Linked DNA regions of Homo sapiens. The protein of the gene in region 2 interacts with the protein of the main gene of each other region in a biochemical or structural test. Each region holds a gene or a part of one and is shown on either strand. Other genes may lie near its edges.

What was found.
Region 1: the proteins of BMP4 (region 2) and RGMB form a complex in vitro, tested with the Homo sapiens proteins (one study listed by BioGRID).
Region 3: the proteins of BMP4 (region 2) and ACVR2A form a complex in vitro, tested with the Homo sapiens proteins (one study listed by BioGRID).
Region 4: the proteins of BMP4 (region 2) and TWSG1 form a complex in vitro, tested with the Homo sapiens proteins (one study listed by BioGRID).

What each region holds. Positions count from the first base shown.
Region 1 is NC_000005.10:98,768,927-98,776,664, reverse strand, and holds the start of RGMB (repulsive guidance molecule B isoform 1 precursor), read right to left. Parts: upstream 3,003-7,738; 5' UTR 2,713-3,002; coding exon of another isoform or gene 2,595-2,712; coding exon 2,459-2,594; exon of another isoform or gene 1,476-2,458; coding exon of another isoform or gene 1,463-1,475; intron 1-1,462. UniProt on the Homo sapiens protein: Member of the repulsive guidance molecule (RGM) family that contributes to the patterning of the developing nervous system. Acts as a bone morphogenetic protein (BMP) coreceptor that potentiates BMP signaling. Promotes neuronal adhesion.
Region 2 is NC_000014.9:53,949,207-53,953,825, forward strand, and holds the end of BMP4 (bone morphogenetic protein 4 isoform a preproprotein), read right to left. Parts: intron 4,195-4,619; coding exon of another isoform or gene 4,070-4,194; intron 3,024-4,069; 5' UTR 3,017-3,023; coding exon 2,647-3,016; intron 1,683-2,646; coding exon 826-1,682; 3' UTR 530-825; downstream 1-529.
Region 3 is NC_000002.12:147,840,304-147,848,055, forward strand, and holds the start of ACVR2A (activin receptor type-2A isoform 1 precursor), read left to right. Parts: upstream 1-4,725; 5' UTR 4,726-4,849; coding exon 4,850-4,904; intron 4,905-7,752. UniProt on the Homo sapiens protein: On ligand binding, forms a receptor complex consisting of two type II and two type I transmembrane serine/threonine kinases.
Region 4 is NC_000018.10:9,393,755-9,400,783, forward strand, and holds part of TWSG1 (twisted gastrulation protein homolog 1 precursor), read left to right. Parts: intron 1-2,525; coding exon 2,526-2,792; intron 2,793-5,591; coding exon 5,592-5,773; 3' UTR 5,774-7,029. UniProt on the Homo sapiens protein: May be involved in dorsoventral axis formation. Seems to antagonize BMP signaling by forming ternary complexes with CHRD and BMPs, thereby preventing BMPs from binding to their receptors.

The DNA.
Region 1 (7,738 bases), on a different chromosome or scaffold from region 2:
TAAATAGAAAGTGCGATTGGGTCAGCATTTTCAGCTGCCTTGTGGGCTTCTATATAATGACTAATTTGTAGCATACACCCAGAAATATCCAGGCTTCATGAATTTATAACGACAACGCACACTTTGCCTGTTATAGGCGGTAAAGTAAGCCTCCTGTCAAAATGCCAAGACAATGCGGAGCAGAAACAATCTCAAGGATGTAGCCAAGAAGGCCATGAAGTGTATGAGTAAGCAAGTAACTCCCATATTGGATCTCTATTCAGGAATTGCAGAGGTTTGCTTAAAAAAAATAAAATAAAATAAAGCAACTAAAGGTACTCTTTTCATACTCTTTTCATTCCCCAAGGGCAGAATTAAAACTCTGCAGCTACAGATTTCTCTATTTTTGGGTCAGATTATCTGTGATCAGTGTGACAGTATTTTCACACCAGTTACTGAACATGCTAAAGCATTTGTGGGTCTAGAGCTTTCATTTCATCATTTTTGAATGAATCAGACATAAAGACCTCACCATTCAAGACAGTTTCTTTAACACCAGGACTACACGTGTGAATCTGCAGCACAATCACCAGTTTATAATAAAAGAAATGAGGTATTCTGAAGCTGAATTAAGTGAAATGTGGAGCCATATGGGGTGCTGAGGCAGATGATAAGGATCCAGGCATAAAACATATAGTAGTCCATCTGCAAAGAGCACTGGCACTCTTGCTGGGTTCCCTTATCTGAGAAACAACCCGGGCATTTAAATAGCACCACTCTTCAAAGAAATCTCTCAAAAGGAGCGTTCTTTTCTTTAACAGGATTAATCGCTTCACTCCAACAAGTTGTCCATAGAAATCGCTTACCACATTGTTGGGCTGAATCTAATGGTGACTTAAATGAGGACACATGAAGATACTGGGAGCTTCACATTCCAAATTCTTGAACGAAGACACCCTACTTTTCTAAACCTTTAAGCCAACTTAGTATGCCTTTCACGGGCTAGCAAAGAAACCTTCAGGGACCACATTCCAATTCTGTCACAGGATCCTATGGCAACTATGGGAAACAATATCCAAGCAGCCAAGGGGGACACAATCCCACCTAGCACAATTTCCATTTCATGAAACTTACATTTTGGTATTATGGACACATATTTTTCGCACAAACACTCCTGAATATATCTTTTAACATGTCAAGAAAAATTTTCCACGTAACTACATGCAGATTGACACTATTTTCTAAGGTTCTTAGGTTACTAATTGAAAGCCGTAATCATCCTAAAACTTTCTATTACACTTTTTTATTAAGCCGTCTTTTCCCTAATTGTCGGTGTTAAAAAGCAGCTATTACATCATAATGCAAAGCTACGCAAAGTAAATTAAGTCTCCTCAGATGTCACATTTTCCCCCCCATTACTTAAAAGACCTCCCTGATTTTTAGCATGGCGGGTATGGTTTAATAAGTAAAAATTACTCCGCACAGTTGGGTGGCATCGAAGTTCAGGATTCTCCAGACCAGAACGTTGTGAAGTGTCTCATATATACAGGACAAAAAAGGTCTGGAAGGAAAAGAAACTTATCTAATGCTGTTTGTTCTCAAGACTAAAGGAAAATGACCCTTTCAACCTTAGCATTAAAAAAAATTCTTTGTCTAGGCAAATTCCTAGAAAAAAATAGTGTGAAGAGCGTCCTGGATTTTCATGAAACGATTTTTTAAAAAGAAAAATAGGTATCACATGGTAGAAGGCTCATTTGCAGGCTTACTTCCCTTGGAACATACGCCTCAAGGCTGGGGAAGCGCCGACCTCCAGAAGGCAGCATGGTTATCTGTCAACCCCTCACGGAGCCCGAAGACACCCGGCTAGTCACAAAACACGAGCTTTTCCCGGGAGGCTGATCGCTGAACAAACGCAGCTTTTGCCAAAACGAAAGAAATCCCTGCTCAAAAAAGTTGACGTTACTTCGAGATTAACTCCCAGGTTTGCAAAATCTGGTAAAAATCTTTCCATCTGGTGTACTTCCTTCGCCTCGCCGCCACCCCCAACTCCAGAAAAGCAGCACAAGGCTCCTTGTCTCCCTCCGAGGCGGCTGCGACGGCGGAAACCTGATCCGAGCCTGACTTTCAGTAAACACCAGCGCAGAGAGCAATAAAGCATCCGGAACATTTGTCTCGGGCGCGCGGCCCCCGCCCGCTAAATGTTTGATAAGCGGCTGTCGGAGGGGAGATTTGTCAGCGGTCCGAGCCGAAGGCGGGGAGGGTGGAGAGAAGGCTCGTCTCTGCGCCCGGCGGCCGCCCGGTGGGTGGCTGCGTTACTGTGGCCCGGAGCCCGACAGAGGTGCGTGTCAGGGGCTCGGGAGGCCTTTCCCGTTGCGCCACGCCGCCCTTCCGCCCCGGCGAGCGCCTTCGAGACCTGGGGCTATTTGGGAACAAAGCCCTAGGCCCCGGGGCTGGCTCCCCTCGCGCGCTCCCGTCCTACCTGCGTGGAGCAGCCCGAGGCTGAACAGCAGCAGCAGCAGCAGCTCCAGCGGCGGGGGGCAGAGCCCGGGGCTGCGGCGCTGCTCAACCTCGGCGGCGGCAGCGGCGGCGCTGGAAGGTGCTGCTCTCAAGCCCATGCCCGTCCATGCAGGTCTCGTGGGCTCCGGCGAGGGCGGCGGCGCGGGCGCCGTGGCGGGTCTGGGCCCGTGGCTGCGGCATGGGCCGGGGGGCGCGCTTCGCTTCCTCTTCTTCCTTCTTCAGGCCCGTGTAGCAGATGGGGCGCCACCACCGCCGCAGCAAGCAGCGCGCAGCCGGCGCAGCCAGTCCGCGGCGGCAGCAGCGGGGCGCAGGGGCATCGTGGCGGCCGGAGGCGGCAGGCAGGGAAAGGGGCGGAAGAGAAGACACAAAGACCGTGAGCGACTGCTGAGACGAGTCCCGAGCGCGCCGGCACCCCGGCCCCAGCCAGCGTGGGCTCGGCGGGCGTGGACCTCCAAGAGGCTGGCCCAGCCCTAGCGACCACCCACCGGCGGCCCGGATATCTCTGCGCGGCAGCCCCCGCGGTCGATCAATCTCAGTCCCGCACTGCCGTCCCGCCCCGCCCTGTGCCCGCCAATCCACGACGCCATAATCCCCCGCCGTGTCCCTCCCTTCCTCCCCATTGGTTGTGACCGCACGTCAGCCCGACTCAGCCTGCCAATCGCAGGACCCAGAGGGCCCTCTCCCCCGCCCGCTCAGTGTAATTCGAGTTCCCTGTCCATCGACTCCAAGTCCTCTCTCCTGCGCCGCATGCTGCCTCGCGCTCCCTTTCCTTCCCCCTCTACCCCCTTCCGCGATTTACTGTTTCCTCGCGCCCAACAGAAATGGGCGACCGCAAGTCTTACTCTCGCCGGCGTTACAAAGGTACCGGCCTTTGACCTCTCCTTGAATTAATGTGATCCGATTCATCTTCCCTCCAAGTTTTTTTTTTAATTTAATTACCCCTCCCTGCCCTGGCCCTGCCAGCTTCAGCTCCACCTCCTTGGAGGAAGCAGGCGCTTTTACAGAGCGCCGCGCGGCAGGTCCCCTTTCAGCCAATCACATCTGCGGAACCGCGTTCCGAGTCGTTTGAGGGTGTCTGGTAAAGCAAGCTCGGGGCGGTGTTGGAAATCTGAATGTCACCCGCGGTCCGGAGCAGATAGGATGGGCTGGGAAGGTACCCGCGAACTGCCGCCGGAATTCGCTGGCAGCTGTGCGAGGCTCAGGTGTTCTAGTTTGACATTTCCCTTCCTGAAAGCGGCAAGGAGAGGTCTAAGAGTGGGCAAACTTCAACGTTCGGTTACAGTGTAATTAATGAGAGTGGTGGGTTTTTATGCAGTGTAATTATGCCACGATTTGTTGTTGCTCAGTGGCTTTTTCACAAATTTCTACAGATTATTTAAATTTTCCACAAATTTCTACGGATTAATTCAATGGCAGCTCACTTTCTCCTTTTATGATCGGATGGGTCCGAAAGTGAGGAAAAAGACAATTGTCTACAAAGAAAGAGGCTGCCAAGTGGAGACAGAAAAGCAGTTATGAGACTGATGATAGATTCCAATTTGTTATCGGTAGGTGTGAAGTGGTATCTAATCTCAAGAATGACCTCAAGGCTGAGAGACACTTGATACCGCCCTCGCCTTTGCCTTTCCCCAAACAGCACAGGGTTGCCATTTAAAATCCACTAACATCCAAATCGTAGTTGGCAACTGTACCCGCTATGTTACTCAGAATCTCTAATTAGGAATTTCTTATCAACCACGGACATGCTGATATTCCACACATGTTTAAATGAGCTAATCAATGGACTAGGATAATTGAGGGGCAAACCTTCAGTCTCACCAGCTCACTTATTAGACACATTTTGAATTGCCCAAACCACTAGGTCCCTAATGAAGGATGCCTATCTGTTTTTACTGTAACTTTTCATTACTTACTTGTTACATACTATGATGACTTAAGGGGTAAACACACCTTTCACTATCCACAATATAATCCAAGCCTGTGTATATCCATAATACGCTTAATAATAGCTTCACAGTTGCCTGGAGAAATGACTTTTGGGGAGGAAGTTATATGACATTTTTAGATAATGCTGCGGACTAAGTATTATTAGAGCAAAAATTTACTATCTTGCAATTACTTCATATAATTAGATACAGTTCATGACATACTAAGAAGCATCTTAAAAAAGTAATCAAACATAATACTGATTTTCAAAGTATTTGGCTAACAAAGACTACATTTTTTTCTCTTAACCCAAGATTTAATTCGACCCCTATAAAAGCAGCATCTCACTTTATTGATCATACTTCAAAGCATATACTCAATAGTTAAGGATCAATAATTTCTGTTTGGTTTGGGTCTTTCCACTCGTGACTTTCTATGATTTTTTACTCCCCTCCCCCTATATCCTGTTCCATAAGTACACGGGTGCTCTAGATTTTCCTATCAATAGAGGGCGTCCTCGAGTCATTGCAAATCCTGGTGTCGTTAAACGGAACTGTTCTTCAGAGGAAAAACTTCATCTCTATAAGGTGCTTTATTGCTCCTCTGTTGTAAAATTTGACAAGCTCGAGATTTATAAGCCTAACAATTCACTTTTTATTGCTGCATAAGTGTTCAGCCGCTAGAGGAAAATGCTAATTTTCACAAGTAAACCGCAAGGTGGTTCCTATTTTCAAGACATAGGTCAGTTGACACACTCGCGGGTAAATTCGTACTGTTCACAAGATCAGGAATTGGCTTGGAAAGCAAGAGCGTAGTGAATAGTCGCTTATACCGCAGCCACTCCTCAAGCCCGTGAGCTGCAAGTTACAAACGACTTTATATTGTACAAAGAAAAATCGGGGAGGGAGCTAGAACACAAACAAAAAAATCGGTGACTTATAAAAGTTTTATGTTTTAATCAGAAAAAAAATCATGAAGTGGCTGATGACTTGTGTAATTCACACATCCACCCTGTTTCTTGCCACTGGTACTCTTTCTCCCTTTCTCTTTGTTTTCAGAAAGGAAGGAGGAGACCTGAACAGTACATCCGGAGAATCCAGCAAAGCATACTACGGCATGAACGTGCAAGTGGACAGAATTAAAACACATGCCAGAAACACTAATGGATTCTAAACAAGATGCAGTTTCATTTCCTGAGCCTATACGTGATGTTTTTAACTGTTCTCCAGTTAATATGTCTCCATTTCCAGAAATCTAACAGGAGAATCTCTGACTGCTTAACAGATCACCTAAGCTTGCGATTTGTGCAATCCTTTCTAGAGTAAGGGCTCCCCGGCTGCTCCCCGGCCACTGTGTACCCAAAGCAGCGGCTGAAATAGCCCGGAGTCCAACAGCTCAGCGTCAAGCAGCTCGTGGTTTGTACTTACATCATTTTTTTTTTCAGAGCAAGAGTGAAAGTTTATTAAAAAGCGTTAGAACAGTAAGGAAAGGAAAGGAGAGAAAATAAGGAAAGTACAACTTGGAAGAGGGCCAAGCGGGCGACTTGAGAAATCAAGTGCCTGTACTTACATCATTCTTAACCCTTTCGCTCCTGGAGGGGGCTCAGCGGGATCAGGGGGCCCCTGAACTTCGGAACACGCAGGACCTGGGTGTGAGAGAAGAGTCCCAAAGCTTGGCGTGAGCAATGCACTCGCGGAGGGAGAGAGCCCGGGGCTTGCGGGGGGCTCATCACCCGCTCGTAGACAACGGGCCCCCGCAATCCCTGCGGGCTCCGCCGCTGCTCTCACCGCTCAAAACGGCAGGTGCAAAAAGCATTTGGGAGCCGCTTGCCAGCGCGCGGAGGTAATGCGCTTCCTGTCCATTTATCTCAGGAAACCAGTGCAGCCTTCCCTTCGAAACAAAATTAACCTCTCATTAGCCAGCCACTCGCTCCCAAGAAGGCCTTAAAAGCTTTACCAGCTCGCTAATGTATTTAGGCTTTTCTTCCAGGCAAACGCAGCCGCCGGTCTTGACTGCCATCGCCCAAGGGGTTCCTCTGGGCTCTCCCGCGAGCCAACAGCCGACCTCTCTCCAGCCTAGTCTGGGAAACTCCAGCCAACCCAGGATCCCATTTTGTAGTCCCGGGCAGACCCGAAACCCCTGAAAGAACTCCACTCCAGAAGACGCCAGAACAAGTTCCCACGAATTTCATGGGCGCCCTTCACATGAAAACCTCAGCTCCCCTATCCTCAAGGAACGGGGAAGGGCGCCGGGGAGGGACTTCGGTGGCCAGCTGTCCCTGGGTCGTGGGCGCTGTTTGCTCTGCGGAGCGCCAGCCCTGCACACAGCGGGTGCGGGAAGCGTTGATGGGAGGCTGGAGGGCGGGGTGAGCGTAAACTAGGATCTAGCCGGTTCCAGGCGTGGAGAATCAAATGTGGTCCTAGATCTGTAAGTTGCGAAAAGGGGCTTTTGGGAGCGTCAGAGCTTTCTCACTCCGGTCCCCCGCCGCCTTGAGGCTGGCAGATTTATACCCCACAGGTGGATGGAGACCTAAACAAAACAGTCCCGGCCGCTGCCTGCCGCTCGCCCCCCACGTCCCCCGGGCCCACCGCAAACTTCAACAAAATAAACAACTCACCACAGGCATTCCCTTGTCTGCAGCGCGACGCTTGCCAGCTGGGAAAATAAGCCGCAAGCCACGCGGCCGAGGCGCGGAGGGAAGGCAGCGCGGCGCCCGCCCCTCTCCCCCAGGTGGGGGGCAGCGCGACTCGGGGCGGGAGGGAGGCTCCGCCTCGGGGGCCGCTCTCCCAGTTCTCCGACTCCAGAATGAGCTCTGGGAGAGGAGCTGCGCCCTTCCAGCTAGCCCGATTTCTCCGCCATCTAGGGGAGAGGGCGGGGAGCCAAATCCCTCAGCCCCCCGCACCCCAGCAGCTTCCTCCAGGCAGCTTTCTCCCCAGTCAGCCTCAAATAGAGGTGAACAGAGACCCTCCTCTCCCCCCGGCAACCCCTATATCGCCACACTGCCCCCTGCCGGCGCTATCCGGCTCATTCCGGCACTGCGGACGGCTGGGGGCGTGGGGGCGTAGGGGCGCCGCAGACCCCCGCGTCCAGGTCCTGGATCAGTTCTCTCTTCGCCTTCCCCCCACCACACTCAATCTTGCACAAAGACGCCTTTCACGCCGCCAGCGCCACCCTCCGCGCCGCCCTCCGGGCCGGCGGCGCTGCCTTCGCCCACCCGCGGCACCAGCCGATTCCTGGTGGGCGATTGTGCCACTCGTCGCCAGGCAGGGCGGCAGCGGACGCGTGCGGGCTGTTCCCACTCCGCGCCCCGGCCAAG
Region 2 (4,619 bases):
AAAAATAAGTTTAAAAACATGCCTTCACACACACATTATGATGTTAGTGTACAAATTAGTTTTGATTTGGAAATATCACATTGGTACCTGTAATAACTGGAGATACCCTGAGGTATCATGAAAGCAGAGGTGGGTATCATTTTTCTAGGGTTGAGACCTCATCACGCTCAGCTGTGATACACCTCAACAGGTGAGTGAAACAGAAGATGTACAAGGGGCCTGAAATGAAGTCTTTAATCTGACCTACACTCCTTTCATCCCAGTGTTTCTCCAAGGCATGTGTCATCCAGATGGGAGAGGATACTGCATCCTTGTTAACATTAAATAGAAATAGAAAACAATTCATGCTGGCAATTACCATCTCTCTCTGCCAACAGTTTACTTCCTGTCCCTACAACTTAACCACCTCCAGGTACCACCTTTTGACTTCCATCCAGCCTCCAACTCACCTGAACAGAAAAAAGCCTCATTCAAAAGAGATGAGCCCGAAGGAAAAGAGAAAGGATTAAGGAGAAAAAAAAAATCATGATTTACCTTTAAAATAATGACTCATTTTATTTTTTTCTTTTAATACGTAGTTATAAATATATTTTGTCAAAATATATGATCAATATGGTCAAAACATTTGCACGTAAAGTCATAAATAAGGTCAAGGTGAATGTTTAGGGATTTTTTCCTTTTTTTTTTTTTTTTTTAAATAAAAGTCCAGCTATAAGGAAGCAGTCTGTGTAGTGTGTGGGTGAGTGGATGGGAACGTGTGTGTGTGGTGTATGTGGTGTGTGTGTGTGGTGTGTATATCTGTCTATCCTCAAGGACTGCCTGATCTCAGCGGCACCCACATCCCTCTACTACCATCTCCTGATAATTTTTCAGTACCACCTTATCATACTCATCCAGGTACAGCATGGAGATGGCACTCAGTTCAGTGGGCACACAACAGGCTTTGGGGATACTGGAATTGACAGAATTGACCAGGGTCTGCACAATGGCATGGTTGGTTGAGTTGAGGTGGTCAGCCAGTGGAAAGGGGCAGTCCCCATGGCAGTAGAAGGCCTGGTAGCCTGGTGGGGCCACAATCCAGTCATTCCAGCCCACATCGCTGAAGTCCACATAGAGCGAGTGGCGCCGGCAGTTCTTATTCTTCTTCCTGGCCCGCTGTGAGTGATGCTTAGGGCTACGCTTGGCCCTCCGGCGTCGGGTCAAGGCATGGCCCCGGCCATCATGGCCAAAGGTGACCAGGAGGGGCCGGAGCTGGGCCCAATTCCCACTCCCTTGAGGTAACGATCGGCTAATCCTGACATGCTGGCCCTGGTGGGTCCGAGTCTGATGGAGGTGAGTCACCTCAATGGCTAGCCCATAGTTTGGCTGCTTCTCCCGGGTCCAGCGAAGGACCGCAGGGCTCACATCAAAAGTTTCCCACCGTGTCACATTGTGGTGGACCAGTCTCGTGTCCAGTAGTCGTGTGATGAGGTGCCCAGGCACCACTTCTGCTGGGGGCTTCATAACCTCATAAATGTTTATACGGTGGAAGCCCCTTTCCCAATCAGGGCCCTGGTCCACCTGCTCCCGGAAGAGCCGAAGCTCTGCAGAGGAGATCACCTCGTTCTCAGGGATGCTGCTGAGGTTAAAGAGGAAACGAAAAGCAGAGTTTTCACTGGTCCCTGGGATGTTCTCCAGATGTTCTAGGCACAGTTAGGAAGGAAGGGGAAAAGAAAAAGCATATGAACTTTTTTCAAAGATGGAAGAGTCAAGAGATAGCTCAGGGTTGGGCAATGAATGGTGAATTCTGCTTATGCAGGGGAAACCTACTGGGGGAAAATAAGCATACCCCTTAATTTGAAGGAGCAGATAAGTGGGGCAGCTAACAAACCAGCAAAATGTAGCTAGCATTTCTCAAGCACCAAAGACAGAAACTATATCCAGCCTCCTTGATATGTCTAATAATTTCTATGTGTCAACTCCTCTATGGCACCACAATCAGACTCCTCTTTTAAACCCCCCACCTTGGCTTTGTGTCCACAGTTTTCTTTACAAGTGGTTGTAAAGAAAAAGAGGGGCCAACAGAGCACAGGCAGGAGGAAACATGCAGACAACCACCCTCTCCCTCTTCCACTATTGAGTATGTTACTAAACATTTCCCCAGCGATCTTGGAAACACAGAGCATGCCTTGTTGATCATGTTACAGAGGGGAAAATAAATTCCAACACAGTAATGATGCTGGTGGATTAATAACTCAGATTTACTTTGGAAAAGAAACATCCGCTAGGAAACATTCAGATCGGATTACAAGGCCCCTATTGAATAAACCCGACAAACACACAGCTGTAATATTAAATTCAGTAGGTGCTTTGAAAAAAACGGGCAGAAAACCTAGCAGAAAAGGCTTTGATATAGCAAAAACACACCGCTGGGGCTAGCCCACGTCTGAGTGCTGTCATTCCCCTTCCCCTGAACACCTCCCCCTCTGTCTCCAAAAAATAAGTTCGGCGGCAGCTCTGCAAATTCTTGGAGGTAAGCAGCTCTGTTCCTCAGCCTCCTGGACTGGGGCTTTGATGTAACCCGAACTCTTCTTCCCCAGGGCTTTCACTGCCCCTCTAGCCAGTCCCACCAGCCCTCCCCCACGCAGACTGGGGGAAGAGACTGACCTTCGTGGTGGAAGCTCCTCACGGTGTTGGCCCGGCTGGCCGGGCGCTCAGGATACTCAAGACCAGTGCTGTGGATCTGCTCTTCCTCCTCCTCCCCAGACTGAAGCCGGTAAAGATCCCGCATGTAGTCCGGAATGACGGCACTCTTGCTAGGCTGCGGGCGGCGGCGCAGCCCAAACATCTGCAGAAGTGTCGCCTCGAAGTCCCGCAGGAGCTCATGGCTCTGCCCTGAGCGGCGTCCTCCCGCGTGGCCCTGAATCTCGGCGACTTTTTTCTTCCCCGTCTCAGGTATCAAACTAGCATGGCTCGCGCCTCCTAGCAGGACTTGGCATAATAAAACGACCATCAGCATTCGGTTACCAGGAATCATGGTGTCTCTGGGGAGGGGGAGGGGAGTGGAAGGTTAAAGAATAAATAAACACCAATAAATAGGGAGAAATAGAGATGTGTCTGCATATGCATTTAGGGCTAGAAATGGAGGGGCAAGATGGAAAGCAGGTCAGAAAGATCAAGTTTGTGTCTTCTCCCTCACACCACCCGCCCACCCACCAGCTGCAGCCATGCACGGCCTGAAAGTAAGAATTGCCCTGTAATTACTTGGTCTAACTTGTTTACAGTCAAATAACCCCAAATCAGATAGCCTCCATCCTGTTAATCTTTTTTTGTCCTAACTGCTATCTGGGCCATGATCTCAGCGTGGCTTCTTGAAGGATAAACAGTTAACATTGAGGGGGTGAAAAGGGGTGGGGGAGGGAGAATTAAAATGGCATTGCTCTCCACTTTAGACCTTCAGCTTCTCTCCCTTTTCCTCCACCCTCAGAGCCCAACTTTCACAACTTCCAGTTGGTTCAGAGCCAGAGGGAGGGAAAGTGAGAGGCAGGGGCTGGGCGAAGACAGAGGGCGACAGGGTCCAGAAGCCGAGAAGGTGGTCTGGGAGCTAACCGGGTGGCTTGAGGGCTTATTTTATTGTGGCCGATGAGTTTGAAATATTCAGCCAAAAGTGCCTGATCGTGCCCGCTCATCCCCAGGGAAGGGGTGAGAGACGATTCCGGAGAGACCTCTGTGAGTTTTGACAAGAGAGTGGGAACGCGCCACGGAGACACTGGGGGCTCTCCCAGACAAGTTGGATAGGGGAAGGGAGTGGTTAGCCCTCAAGGTACAACCCCGGGCTTTCATCTCTTTAGCTCCCTCGCGCTCCCCTTTCTTGCAACGCTGAGAGGGCGAGTGCGCGCTAGCAGCACTTTAAAAGGAACCCGTACGCTTCCAGCGCCCCGGCTGCCGGGCCAAGAAGGGAGCGACAGTGCTGCCAGGGAGCAGAGTGTGGATATTGTAAAGGAGGTCCGACGGAAGGGACAGCCGGCGAGCAGGGGTGGTGAGGGCAGAGTGAATTCCGGGGAGGGGGAAGGAAGAGGTGTCTACTCACTGACAGAAAACAAGGCATATAATAACAGTCCATGATTCTTGACAGCCAATCTTGAACAAACTTGCTGGAAAGGCTCAGGGAAGCTGCAGCAGTGCGTTGCTCGGGATGGCACTACGGAATGGCTCCTAAAAGGAATATTTGAATATAATGAGACTCCACCGCAGACAGGCTCTGTTTTTCTTCCAGCCCCTCGGAGTCACGTGAGCGCCGAGGCCCCTCCCGCGGCAGGCGGCGAAAGGGCTTGCGCGCCCTCCCCTCCTCCACAGCCCCCCGCCCCTCGCGGGCCCGCCCCTCCAGGCGAGGCCAACCTCCGCGCCCGCCGCCCGAGCCTCAGCGGTCCGGGAGGAGCTCCCGGCGGCGCTCGGCAGAGCCCTCGGCCGGTGCCCCGCGGCCGCCGCGCTCCCAGGGCTACTGGCGCAGCGCACGGAGAACCCGGTTCTCGGCGCGGTGCGTCGTGCTGGGCCCCCGCGCCGGGCCACCTGAAGCCAGAGGATTTGGGGCGCACTGAAGGGACTGCGTCTCCCAGCTCGAACCCGGCTTAAGTGGGGCC
Region 3 (7,752 bases), on a different chromosome or scaffold from region 2:
AGGTAGGCAGATCACTTGAGCTCAGGAGTTCAAGACCAGCCTGGGCAATATGGCAAAACGCCGTCTCTACAAAAAAATGGAAAAAAAAAAATTAGCCCGGTATGTTTGGCACACGTCTGTAGTCCCAGTTACTCAGGAAGCTAAAGTGGGAGGATCACCAGAGCCTGGGAAGTCAAGACTGCAGTGAGTGGTAATTGCATCACTGCACACCAGCCTAGGTGACAGAGTGAGACCTATCTCAAAAATAAAAACAAAAAACAAAACACTTGAAATTAAAACAATAAAATATAAGCTCAATTATTTTATAGTTTCAACAGACGTAATTATCAAGTTTCTACAAAACTTTGTGAACAATTGTTGTCTGTGTCCATACATATCTCATTAAATATTAGTAACAAATCTTTTGAGACCAGCACTGGCTTAAGACCTACACTTTGAGTAGTGCAGGTTTACTCCATCATCCTTCCATTTGATATTGGTTTAAGGTAATAGATCTCAAATCCTGAACTATTCTTTGTCGGGTATGCTAAATGCCCAACCTCCTGCAGAGTATTTAGTATCCTAGTCCTAGGACACTAAAAACCAGTGCCATCACCCTTACTAGTTATTGTCCAAACCAACACCTTTCCCACCTCCTACCCACCAATGGGGGAGCATCAGCAACGCCATAATTTGGAACCACTTGGGGGTGTGGGTTCTGACAGTTGCTCAGTAGTGTTAGCGTAGGCACTGTGGTTATCAGCCTGGGGAGGAATTGAGTCCTAGCACCTGTTCAAGAAAATTAAGCACCTGTGGTAATGAATTTAAAGTGGAGGGTGGGAAAGAATCCTTGCCAAATTATGCCTATTAGTTTTGTTTCCTACACATTTCTTGAATTTTGAAGGGGGCGATAGTGGGGAGAAAAAGTCAAATATTACCTTTGGGATGTTGGGATGTTGAGATTTATATTACATCACAGTTTCTCTTAACTCTTCTAACTCACTTTCTCCTTCACCTAAAATCTTTTGTCTTAACACTTTTCCCCTTATCCATTCCCACATTCTTATCCTCCTCGATATGTCTTTTTGACCCCATTGGCACAGTGCAATGCTATACAGATGGACGTTAAGTAGAAGGGGAGGAATAAATAGCAGCAAAAGCTAGGATGTAGAGAATTTTCTTCCCACCTTGGGCACTTAAGGAGAGGGGGATATTTATAAAAGATACATCGATCATTTCTCCCTTCCTTGGACTCACCAAGTTACCAAATTTATTCCCCATGCATTATGCCTTACAGCGTTGGCATATAAGAAATTCGTTACTTGTGCCACTTCAAGAATGCCCATGTCATCTGAACACAGATTTTTATAGTAGCTAGAAAGCAGCACGAAAGCTTCTAAGTCCTTCATTTAAGGGGAACTTAACATCCTCCATACTCCAAAGGTTTTCAGTCATCTTCCTGAAGATGAAGGAAAAGAGATTAGACGTGTGTTGCTGAAGTGTCTGTTGGTGGGTCCAAACGCAAGTTCAATTATAACCCAGTTCATTTCCAGCTCTACTTCAGAACTGAAGATTTAAACTTCTCCACATCTTTTTGAGCCATGACTTTGTTAACACAAAAAGAAATCTTTTATTCTGGAAGCAGTCTGTGTCACTTATTTACCTCTACCTCCTCATCCAGCCAACACTCTAGATTGAACTGGCTTCTCAAGATTCTTCCACCTGGGAATAATTTTCAGTTCAATTGAACTTGGCAGGACTCTGAACTTCAAATTCTAGCATTGGAGTGGCCATAAGGCTAGGTCTTGGGGCTGGGAAGTGAATGAAGTTAGCTAAAGATGTTTATCTCATAATGCCCGATGCTCTGGTCGATTAGAATTCATGTTTCCTTTTCCTTTCCTCTCCTTTCTCATTTTCCTTCCCAAACCAGGTTTTACACCTTGCAATGTGTTAGGAAGTGGTTGTTGGATTTATGGATTTTAAAAAGTGATTCTAGAAAACAAGGAGGAAAGAAGGGCAATGGGGTTAGCTGTAGCTACCTCTTTTTAAGCTTTGAAGCTCCGGTGGAAATTAGTCACAATTCCTTGTCTTTTTAGGTTACATTATTTTTGAATTAAAAAAAAAAACGAAGGGGTAATTGAACACATTTAGGAACAGAATAGCTGCGTTACTGGTTGTTAATACTTTTCCCATGGGGTTTTCTGTCTTTGTTAGAAAGGAATGTCCTCGTGAAGACTGGCTGCTTCTCTTTAGTACTACAGAAAAATAATTTTCATGCTCTCGTTCTTATAATGGCAAATTTAGTTGGTAAGATAAGGAATATATTTACAAGTTTCAGTTGTATTACTCGCTATTCCAGTTATTCCACTTGCTCAGGCTTCACAATTAAAGAAATACTGAAGTGATGCACAGATAAGACAAGAGTGGGGCCTGACCCTAACTGACATCAAATTCTCTAATGAACTTCAAGTGTTTCTAGAGTAAAATATACTCTTCCATTCCAGAACCGTTAGTACAACTCTTAATTCAACCAGAAAATGGAAGGCTTACACATATTCCTTTGACCAACTCATAAAGATAGGAGAACTACATGAGATCATTCAGACACCTTTAATACCGACTTGGGACTTTGTAACTGTTCCAACATCAGTCAAATTCTGAGCATCACGATTTGAGAACTGGCAATCTTGGAGAGATTTAAAGAGCCACGTTGATTATTAATAACCCTGATAAGTTGTAGAAATGGGCAGATAATTACAGGATGAACTTAATAGACAGAAATACAGAGTAATTTAGAGGAAGTAAACTGCTGTAAATATAAGTGAGAAGACTTGGCTTTGTGGGAAAAGGTGGGAATCAGTAAACCACAAATGAAACATGAATTAGCCATATTATACAGTTGTTTTATTAAAAACCAAAACTTTGTAGAGTACATTAACAGAGACTGTATTTAAGAGAAAGGCAGTCATCCCTTAGTCATTTATACAATTATTTATTAAGCACTTATGTGCTAGTTGATACTTCTGGGTGCTGGAATAAAATAAGGAAAAAATCAAGATCTCTACCTTCACGAAGCTCACTAAAGTGTGGTAAATGACAGAGCAACTACCTTCAATAGTCTCTAGTTTGTATTCTGCAACCAACTGAATACAGCAAATACTAAAAGCTACTTGAGGTAGGGATCCATCCTATTTTTACCTGTTGGATCCCATTCCGTGCCTAGCACACCAGCTTGTAAGCAATCGACATGGATTAAGGGGTAAAAACAGGCCCTTAAATAGCTAAAATTTTGACAAGTAATCACTTGTCTGATCATCAAATATGTCGTTCGAAATCCTCATTTTTTTCTTCAAAGCGCAGTAAACAAGTATTTGCGCACCTATTACGTGCAAAACAGTTTTCAACACAATGCTTTGTGTGTAAAAGGAACGGCGGGAATGGATTCAAGTTGCGCATCGTGATAAATGGCGTGAATATCCTGAGCGGGTGGACAGCCCTTCCTCCGTGAGTTTTTTCTTTTTCTTTTCTAGTCACCAAGACAGCACGCGTGTGCAGAAGCTGCAGCGGTGGGACGCAGTGCTAAGTCTGGGGGCGCACACACCAGCTCGCGCGTCGCGAGCTCGCCTGGGCAGCTCGGCGGGCGCGGCGAAACAGCTCCCACGTCCGCCTTCCACCGACTCCTCGGTATCAGAGCGGACGAGGCGTCCCCCCAGAGGAAAGACTGGGCGCCGCAGACGCCCCTTGGAGAAGTCCCTGGCCACTCGCCCCACCTCGGGGTCCTCTTCCTCTTGGGCTTCTCCTGACCCTTTGGGTGGGCGCTCCAGACAGGCCCGTCGGACGCGATTTGGAAACGGGTCGTGCCCGGCCTAGCCCGCATCTACTCGCCCGGCCACAGCCCAGCCACAGCTTAGGGACTTTGAGGCGCCCGCGCCCCTTTGTCGCGGTATCTCTAGCCCAAGCAGGCCGGACGCCGAGGCCTCGCGGTATCGAGCCTCCGTCCGCCCCGCCTCCTCGCCCTCCACTCCGCCCCGCCCTCGCTCTCTCACCCCTCCCCCGCTCCCGCCTCGCTTCCCCGACAATCTCCTCGCGCTCCCGGCCCGGCACGCGCGCTGCGCCCGGCCGCCGCTGCCGCCGCCGCCGCCGCCGCCGCTGCCGCCGAGCGTTCCTCCGCTGCGCCTGGCTTCCAGCTTCGGGCCGGAACCGGAAGTTTGGGGGGCGGAGCCCGGCGGAGGCCAGGAGACCGAAAACGCGGCCGAGCCCGGAGCCCGGAGCTGGAGCCAGAGCCTGGACCAGAACTTGGCCGCCGCCTGCACCGCCGCCGCCGCTGCCGCCCGCCGCCCCTTCCCCGCGCCGCAGCCGCCTCGCCGCCACCGCCGCGAGCTCGGCCGCCAGTGGTCCTCGGACTTTAGGTGTCTGGGTTGAAGGTCGGTCCGGACATCGGACCCAGTCAGTTCCCAGACTGTCCGGGCGGCAGCGGACGCCGCTGCCGCCGCCGCCTCTTCGTCGCCTCAGCCTGGCGTTTTGTTCCGAGAGACGGGAGAGGCGAGCGGAGCTGACAGTGATTTTGACAGTGATTTAAACCCGCTTTTGTTGTTGTTGGCTTTTCGTTGTTTGGTTTTGTGTGTTGTGCGTGTGTGTGGCGGTTTTTCCCCCGTGGTGCATTTTATTTTTTATCGTTGTGCTCTTTTTTTTCTTTTTTTTTTTTAACCCAGTGAGCGTTTTTTTTTTTTTTTTTTTTTTTTTTTGGTCTGGGCTTCCGAATATGTTTTATGACGGTTGATTTTACACCAGGAGGTTTGTCTCCGAGGAAGACCCAGGGAACTGGATATCTAGCGAGAACTTCCTCCGGATTCCCCGGCGCCTCGGGAAAATGGGAGCTGCTGCAAAGTTGGCGTTTGCCGTCTTTCTTATCTCCTGTTCTTCAGGTAGGTGCAGGGAGCGCGGCGCGGTGGGGCTGCTCCTGCGGCCGCGGCGGCCGCTGCTGGGGGCCGCGGCTGGTGTTGAGTCGGAGAGTCCAGTGGAGCCTGGGGAGGTTGCCCACTCCCTGCGCCCCTCGGCTGCCACCGCCCCCCCCCCCCGCCCCCAGGTCTGATTGTGATCTGGAAACCTCCATGCATTTTTCTCTTTTTGAGTTGGGTCGGCGAGCTGATAAGAGTGAGTGCTGTGTTGTTGTGGAAGTGAGAAAGTCATGTTTTGTGGCCATAACACTGGATGACAGCGCTGGTTGGGTTGCAATTAAGCCGCAAATACCACAAGTGACAATTTATGCAAAGGTTGAGATCTGAAAGGAGTATTTAGTGTGGGCTCCTCCAAAACAAGGGTTGCTTTTTGTCATCGTTTAATTAGTGCTTCACCGGTGAATATCACGACATAGATCAAGCCAGTTGCTGCTTAATTTTGGCTGTGGGAAACAATACATCCTATCAGCAATTTAATCTGGGTCTCCCCTCACGTTTTCTTCAACTTCAGCGTCCAGCAGTGTTAAAAATAGTTGTAGTTGTTGTTGGAGTATTAACTATAACCCAGTGCAGAAGAGGTATGCCGCTTGGTATTGGTAATGTGCTGGCGTTCAACCACCATTTGTGTGCTCTTTTGGGGCATAGATTTTGCTTACCTACGGAATACTTATTTTAAACGCTTTGTATTGAAGCATTGTTTTCGGTTTAGAACAACCCATGTGAAATTGTTTTTGTTAAATATAGTACACTCATAAAATAGGTTTTAGCTCAAGGTTGGGGGAATAAACGGGCCATTTTATATTGGAAATTTTGATTTTGTGAGGACGTTCTATGGTTGCAACCAGTGGTTGGAAAAACTATCTAGTCTTTTGTATTTGAAATTCTATAAATAAATACAGCATCTAGCTGAAAGGTGTGCAGATGTACATAACAGGAGAGTTAGTTCAATAGATGAAACATTTTAAATAAGTCTCATTGGATCTATTTATTGTAAAATTTAATATTCAGTTACAAGCTTGTGGCATAGAATTACGGGGGACTCTTGGAAACGGGGGCGAATTGACAGGTTTCATGGCCATGTCTTTATCTCGTTTGCCACAGGAAAATTAAAGGGTGGTAGTCTTCTTTGTGTACCTCTGTGGGGTGTGTGTGTGTGTGTTTGTGTGTTTGTGTCCGTCTTCCCCACCCCCCTTTAAATATAATCTTTTGTAATGTATAGAATTTTGCTGAATGGTACATTTCCTTGTGGTTAATAAATGGATAAAGTCTAGTCTTATGTCTGTAGTGGTATTGATCAGTTCCGGGTGGGCTGAATGTGTTGTGAAATGGCGATCATTGCCAGAGATTAACCAAAAGAATCATGTCTGTTTAAATGGAAGAAGGAACATGCTTAAGGCAGGCTGACAGTTCTTTTTGTGCACGGTTTGGGAAGGAAGCTAAACAATGGTGTGTCTGAAATGAATGAAGGCCTTGATAACATTAAACCTCTTGCTTTTGTGACATGACTTAACCATGTAGTTTTTATCTTTCCAGTAGTACTCTTTTTTCCTCTGCTTCTATATGTTGTGGCTGGTGAACTCCTCTTGTTCAAATCCCTTGTTCTGATCTCTTGCCCTTGAGGAGGAGGGGCATCATGGCCACTGACCAAGGAATTGTGGACATTATTCCCTCTCAAACCCACCTGAGTCACACTAATTGATGAAGGAGGTTATTCTTGAGCAGTCTCAAGGTATTACTTCTTGAAAAGCAGGCTGTCGCTACAGATCTTACAGCTTCTTCTGCTTGGTTTGGTAGTAAAAATAATTGAGCATTAGTTTCTTGTGGGATTATTTTCATTGGGCCAGGATTATTTTCAGTGGGCCAGGAGGTTAATAGCTATAATTTTGAAATAAAGTGATTTTGTTGCTGTAGGGCATATAGATATTCCACTTATATTAAACTAATATTATGTTGTTGCATAGGCTTTTTAAGATGAACATTCCCAGTTGAACTAAAATATGTGATTCTGTTGAAGATAATTGAAATAATCATAAAGACCTTAATCCATATTTATACATGAACAATTTGAGTACTTAAAATGTCTGATTTTTAAAAGCCTTTTGTTATGGATCAGATGCACTCTAAAAAAGGATTATTATGTTTCTCCAACTAATTGATTTTTCTACAAAATGTGTGATCTGACATGTTGGAAGCATGAGGTGACTATTTTTATGAGAATTTTAAAAATTCTCAGGTTGTCAGTTTTTCATTTCTAGATATTTGATTTTTTTTAAAAATCAAAATGGGAAACAATAGTAAGGAACAGTTTTGTTCCAGGTGTTTAGGAGGGATGTTTACTATTTCGTGGACTCTGATTTTTCAGTTTCCATCCCATGGTATGTATTCTGGAGACTGATTATGCAGACTATTCCTGTAGGATATGGCCAAGTGTATAATTTCCTCCTCTCTCTCATTCCAGGGGAAACATTTTAAATTTTGCCCCTATCCTGGAGTGCCTTCAGATTACCTTTGATTTTGAATTTTTTCATTCCTCTCATACTTTCTCAGATTCTGTTTCAAAACATAAATCTTAGTTTTCTTTTTATAGCATTGTGGTTTATTTGTGTCTTTCCCCACAGTTTGTTGAAGTATGAGAATGACTTTAATACTTGCTTTAGTACTTAGATTTATCCTATCTAGAGTTATGCAGCTATTGTGGTATTTGAGTTGCATAGAAGTAAGTTGAGAATTCCTTTGGATTTTGTGGGAGCTGGAGCAGTATGGTCAATGTATTTGATGAAAGAGGAAATGGAAATATGGTAATTATGTTTTCTTC
Region 4 (7,029 bases), on a different chromosome or scaffold from region 2:
CTCACTATATTGTCCTGGCTGGTCTTGAACTCCTAGCCTGAAGCAGTCCTCTCACCTCTGCGTCTCAAAGTGCTGGGATTAAAGGCATGAGCTATGATGTCTGACCTAAAATTATTTTTTAATAATTCATTTTGAAATAATCTCAAATATAGAGAAATTTGCCAGAAGGATAAAAAGATTTATATTTTCCCTCACCCAGATTCCCCAGTTATTAATACAGCCACTATGGAAAACAGTATGGAGCATCCTCAAAAAACCACAAATAGAACTACCATATCCAGCAATCCCATTACTATACATTTATGCTAAGGAAAGGAAATCAGTATATCGAAGAGACATCTGCACCTCTGTGTTTATTGCAGCAGTATTCACAATTGCCAAAATGTGGAGTCAACCTAGATGTCCAACAACAGATGAATGCATAAAGAAAATGTGGTATTTATACTCAATGGAATGCTATTCATCCACAAAAAAGCATGAAATTCTGTCATTTATGCCAACATAGATGGAACTGGAGGACATTATGTTAAGTGAAATAAGCCAGGAACAGAAAGTTAAACACCACATGCTCTCGTTCTCACTCATATGTGGAAGTTAGAAAAAAGTTCATTCCATGCAAGTAAAAAGTAGAACGGAGGATGGTAGAGGCTGAGAAGGATAGGAGGGTAGAGGGAACAGGAGGATAGAGAGATATTTGTTAAAGGATATAAGATTACAGCTAGATAGGAGGAATGAGTTCTCTAGTGTTCTCTAGTTCTATAGGATGACTATAGTTAACAATAATGTATTATACATTTCAAATAGCTAGAAGAAGGATATTGAATGTTCCAACACAAAAATGTTTGAGATGATGGATGTGTTAATTACCCAGATCTGATCATTATTCATGATTGTATTGAATCATCACTGTAACTCATAAGTATAATTATTATGTCAATTTACAAAAACATTTTATCATTGCATTTGCTTCATTGCTCAATACCCTTCCTCTCCCTACAGACACACACACATGCATGCATGCACACACACGCACGCACACACATGATCATTCATGTTTTTTTGAATCTTTGCAAAGCAAGCTTTACAAACAATGTCCCATTACCACTAAACACTCCAGTCTATATTTTCAAACAACAAAGATATTCTCCTAAAAATTGGCATACAGCCCTCCAAATCAGGAAGCCAATATCAATATAACATTGCTACCCAATCCACAAACCCCATTCAGTGTCACCAGCTGTCCCAGTGGTACCTCTTCTTTCTTTCTGGCCCAGTGTCCTATCCACGAACATGTGATGCGTTTAGTAGTTATGTTTCTTCAGACTCATTCAATCTGAAGCAGTCCTTTAGTCTTTCTCTTGACAGTGTTAAAGAGTACAGACCTTGATTATACAGGATTTCCCTCAGCCTTGATGTGCCTGATGTTTACTTGTGACCAGACTTATGTCACACATTCTTGGCAACATCACCACCTCCCATCACTGGTGATGTTAACTTTGATCTTCTGATCATATTGGTGCCCGCCAGACTTCTCCACATTAAAGTCATTATTAATGACCTTTTGTAAGTGATTAGTATTTTGTGGAGAACTTTCCAAGAATACATCAGTATATTCTTATCTAACAGTCACTCATCAGACTTAATATCCATTGACCATTCCCATCCGAATCAAACCCCTGTGATAGTGCCAAATGGTGATTTTCTGTTTCCTTTCTTCTACATTTATCAGTTGGTAAGGAATATCATTCCCTTCTCTTGTATTTATTTATATATAAGAACTTATTGATTCTTGTTTTGTTTACAAGATGGTAATCCATGTTTATTGATTGATTGATTGATTGACATGGGGTTGCCCAGGCTAGAGTCCAATGGTACAGTGATAGCTTACTGCTGCCTTATCTCCTGGGCTCAAGAAATCCTCCCGCCTCAGCCTCCCAAGTAGCTGGGGCTACAGGCATGCACCACCACACCCAGCTAATATTTTTTATTTTTTGTAGAGATGATGTTTTGCTATGTTGCCTAAGCTGGTATCAAACTCCTGGGCTGAAGTGATCCTCCCACCTTGGCCTCCCAAAGTGCTGGGATTATAGGCGTGAGCCACTGCGCTCAGCTTATTATTATTTTAATGCTCAAATTGTCTATTAGCCAGTAGGAGCCCCTTCAGTTGTCCTCCTGTGTCTCTTCAGCATGTCCCATCATTCATGGTGCACTTCCTTACTTTCTGGCACAAATGTGTTCCTGGCTCACTTTGTACTTTCCTGACCCAGCCTTCAAATCAGTCTTTCCTCCAAGGAGCTCTGGTTCCTATTATGTATTTAAAAAACAAGATCTGAGCGTTCAGTATGCTTGAAGCTACTGGGGTAGAAGAATATCATCATTTAGGCTCACCCAGCAAAAAAAAAAAAAAAAAAAAAAGGTAGGAAAATATCCATGTGTAATCCTAGAAGTTACATAATTTTAATGTGTTATAGCTCTGATTGCAAGGCAGTAACTAACAAAATCTTATGATATTACCCCCAACCCAGGTATGTGTAATCCTCGAAATTATAGTGACACACCTCCAACTTCAAAGAGCACAGTGGAGGAGCTGCATGAACCGATCCCTTCTCTCTTCCGGGCACTCACAGAAGGAGATACTCAGTTGAATTGGAACATCGTTTCTTTCCCTGTTGCAGAAGAACTTTCACATCATGAGAATCTGGTTTCATTTTTAGAAACTGTGAACCAGCCACACCACCAGAATGTGTCTGTCCCCAGCAATAATGTTCACGCGCCTTATTCCAGTGACAAAGGTAACTGCCAACAGTTGACTTTTTCCATTCCGCCCCCTCATGTGGTCTGTCCATGTAATCTATAAAACCTATATAAGACCATCTTTTGGAGCAGCCTTTTGGTTTTGAATTTGTATCATCTCACATAAATTCTAGACTCAATAACCCTGATCCCATCATATCTAGAGGCACATGCCAGAAGGATAAGAGAAAAAAAATATCTCCAATCCTTGAGTAGATAAAAAGGCATGTCGGCTGGGCGTGGTGGCTCATGCCTGTAATCCCAGCACTTTGGGAGGCCGAGGCAGGTGGATCACGAGGTCAAGAGTTCGAGACCAGCCTGACCAACATGGTGAAACCCCATCTCTACTAAGAATACAAAAATTAGCCGGGTGTGGTGGCGGGCGCCTGTAGTCCAGCTACGAGGGAGGCTGAGGCAGGAGAATTGCTTGAACCTGAGAGTCGGAGGTTGCTGTGAACCGAGATCACACCACTGCACTCCAGCCTGGGTGGCAGAGCAAGACTCCGTCTCACCAAAAAAAAAAAAGATAAAGAGGCATGTCAGCATATTGTCAGAATTCCTCCATACTCCTGGCAGCAGAGGCTGTACTGTATTGGAAAATAGATAATTGTTCCTAATTCTGGTATTTATTTGTGCTAGGCTTTATTCTGTTCATAAGATAGCAACAATGCTGCTTCTCTAATAAAATATTGCTCATTGTCAGGTGACATTCAGAGTATCCCATGAAGTCAGATTTTTATAATAGCACCCGTACCAAAATGATGCCAAAGTCATTAGCTAAATTTCTTTATAAGCAAGTTGGTATTCCAGACATCTCATTTCCAGGCATAAACTAACCCCAGCCAGTTCTCTGCAAATGGGTGCTGTTGGTCAGAAAAGGAATTAAGTGAGAAAATAACTTATACAAATTACAGAAGCATATTTAAGAGCATTTATTAGTGAAGATAGGTCATATCATAATTTTGGAATGTAAAGAGCATGTGACTTTTATAAAATCTTTGATATTTTTTGACAAAAGGCACCATATAATTTTACTGTGGAAGCATAAAGCACTTATGAAAATTGCAATTATTTCTTAAAACATGAGGTGAATTATGTATAAATAGTATAATTTGTACTCTTACTTGACTATTAGTTGTGCCCTCCATTACATTCCTACCTATATAAAACAGTGCGGGCTGGGTGCGGTGGCTCACGCCTGTAATCCCAGCACTTTGAGAGGCTGAGGCGGGCACATCACCTGAGGTCGGGAGTTTGAGACCAGCCTGACCAACATGAGAGACCTCGTCTCTACTAGAAATACAAAATTAGCTGGGCGTGGTAGCACATGCCTGTAATCCCAGCTACTTGGGAGGCTGAAGCAGGAGAACTGCTTGAGCCTGGGAGGTGGAGGTTGCGGTGAGCCGAGATCGCGCCATTGCACTCCAGCCTGGGCAACTAGAGCAAAACTCCATCTCAAAAAAAAAAAAAAAAAAAAAAACCAAGAAAACAAAAAACAGTGTGAGCTTCGAACATTAATAGTAAAAGGCAAAACAGCTTCTGTTAAATGACAGTGTAAGATTTCTTATTCCCTTTTAGGTTAAAGTACTTTGTAAAACAAATGCTAGATTTTGGAAAACATTAGAAACATATGGAATGCAATAATAATATGTTTTGTTATCATTTTCTCCATTATTAAAATGTAAGTAATCAACATAACAGATATTAAATAATAATTCATAAATTTTGCTCAAAGATTATTTAAATTTATGAAGCAATTAGCAAGAAGCTAATTCCTGGAAACTCCAGCTGTCTTCAAGACACAACTAAAGTTTTTTCTCTGTGACATCTTTCCTGGGCACCTATTCCCCCAGATAGAGTCAGTCTCTTTCTACTGCTCCTCCTGCATTTGCAGGTTTTTGTTTGTTTGTTTGTTTGTTTGTTTTTTGAAATGGAGTTTCACTCTTGTTGCCCAGGCTGGAGTGCAATGGCGCAATCTCGGCTCACTGCAACCTCTGCCTCCCAGGTTCAAGTGATTCTCCTGCCTCAGCCTCCCGAGTAGCTGGGGTTACAGGTACCCACCACCATGCCCGGTTAATTTTTTTAATTTTTAGTAGAGACAGGGTTTCGCCATGTTAGCCAGGCTGGTTGCAAACTCCTGGCCTCAGGTGATCCACCTGCCTCGGCCTCCCAAAGTGTTGGGATTACAGGCTTGAGCTACCATGCCTGGCCTGCATTTGCAGTTCTGTTTGTTGTCTGTTTTTAACTTATGGATCTATCATTTTCTACTTAGTTCTGTGGATTCTCTGATTCCTCTACTAAAAATATAAAAATTAGCCAGCTGTGGTGGTGCATGCTTGTAATCCCAGCTACTCGGGAGACTGAGGCAGAGAATCACTTGAACCTGGGAGGCGGAGGCTGCAGTGAGCCAAGATCACACCACTGCACTCCAGCCTGGGTGGCAGAGTGAGACTCCATCTCAAAAAAAAAAAGGAAATGCCCAGTTTAAAAGCACAGCTGTATAACATAGCAAATGTTTTTAAGCCCAATAATCCAACTTTTCGATCAAAGCCTGAAATCTAATAAAAGAAGCTAAGGAAGCCCTTTGCCTTCTTCAGATGGAGTGGGAGAATCTGACTTCCTTCTCAACATAATTAATAAATGAAGATCTTTTTTCCTGTACCTCATCTTTGTCATGTACAGACCAGTAATAAGAGAACCAAGATAAATAACTGTTAATATTCAACTAGGTAATAAAGCATTTTATTTTTTTGTTTTTCTTCTTTCTTGCCCTGAAATCTTAAATTTTTGTTTTTCAGAACACATGTGTACTGTGGTTTATTTTGATGACTGCATGTCCATACATCAGTGTAAAATATCCTGTGAGTCCATGGGAGCATCCAAATATCGCTGGTTTCATAATGCCTGCTGCGAGTGCATTGGTCCAGAATGTATTGACTATGGTAGTAAAACTGTCAAATGTATGAACTGCATGTTTTAAAGAAGACAAATGCAAACCAAAGCAACTTAGTAAAATAATAGGTATAAAAAGTTATTCTGTAAGTCTGTTGGTTGTATCTTGTATCAGAATCCCAGTAAGTTAAGTTGTAAAGACTTTGGAATAAGTTTCTTTTAAAAATATGACATAGCCAGTGATGTGTTTAATTATATAACTGTTCTTACTGATTTTATTGCCCCCTAGCAATAAGCCCTTTCCTTTGAATACATGTACAACTTTGGTCATATGAGAAGCAGGTGCGCAGAGAATTCCTTGAAAGATCTGAGGTTTTTAACATGAAGTCTGACGTGGTTTTCCTCTAGCATTCCAAAAGGTTTTTGCTTTGAAAGTGTTAGCAGAAGCATGTTGATGTGAATTATGATTTCTTCATGTGCTACTGTTAGCACACTGAGTTTTTATAGTTGCACATCATTCCTCATTGTGCCTTGTTTTATCCATTTTATAAATAGAGTAGATATTTGATATACCACTCTGATAACTCATATAAAAATATCATCATAAAAAGCTTAATTTCATCCCTTTTATGTTGGTTTTAAAAGGTAAATGCTTACCATATTTTATAATTGAGAACTCTTACATAGTAGAATCCATTCTATAATACATGTGTTGACAAAGCTTTAGAGAAAGTTTCCTATTCTCTTCCATTTCCCCTGCCCAAAGTGCTGACATAGGCAGTGATGAAGAATCTTTACCAAGATTTTCAGGGTGTACCTATGAAATTGCTTTAAATGCACTGCTGGTGTAAATAATTAGCAAGCAAAGCGTTTCTGTGACTTCAGGTACCAGCTTAAAGAGCACTAGGGATGGGGAACGAATGCCAAATCAGACTCCACCTAGAGCACCAGGAAACAGCTTGTACCCTGGTAGGGAAATGGTGTTGCTGAAAGGGGAGGCTGAGCCAGTGCGAGACTGAACTTGTGCAGCCTTAGCCAAGACAAAGCAGTGTTTTTCAGCAGACGGCTGATGGGACAGGAATTGAAGAAGAGAATTGACTCGTATGAACAGGACAGGGTGAAAATGCTGGGAATTATTATGGGAAACAAAACTATCTATGTTCATATTTTGTAATATTTCATTTGTTAAGTTTATATCTGGATATAATGTTCTTTTTAAACAAGTATAATCATATCGTCGGAGGTTAAGATTATGAAATTTTAGAATCTCTATTCAAGATGATGTTCACTCCAAATACACTACAGAATTTAGTCAACATTTTATATAATGTTTCAATAAATGTT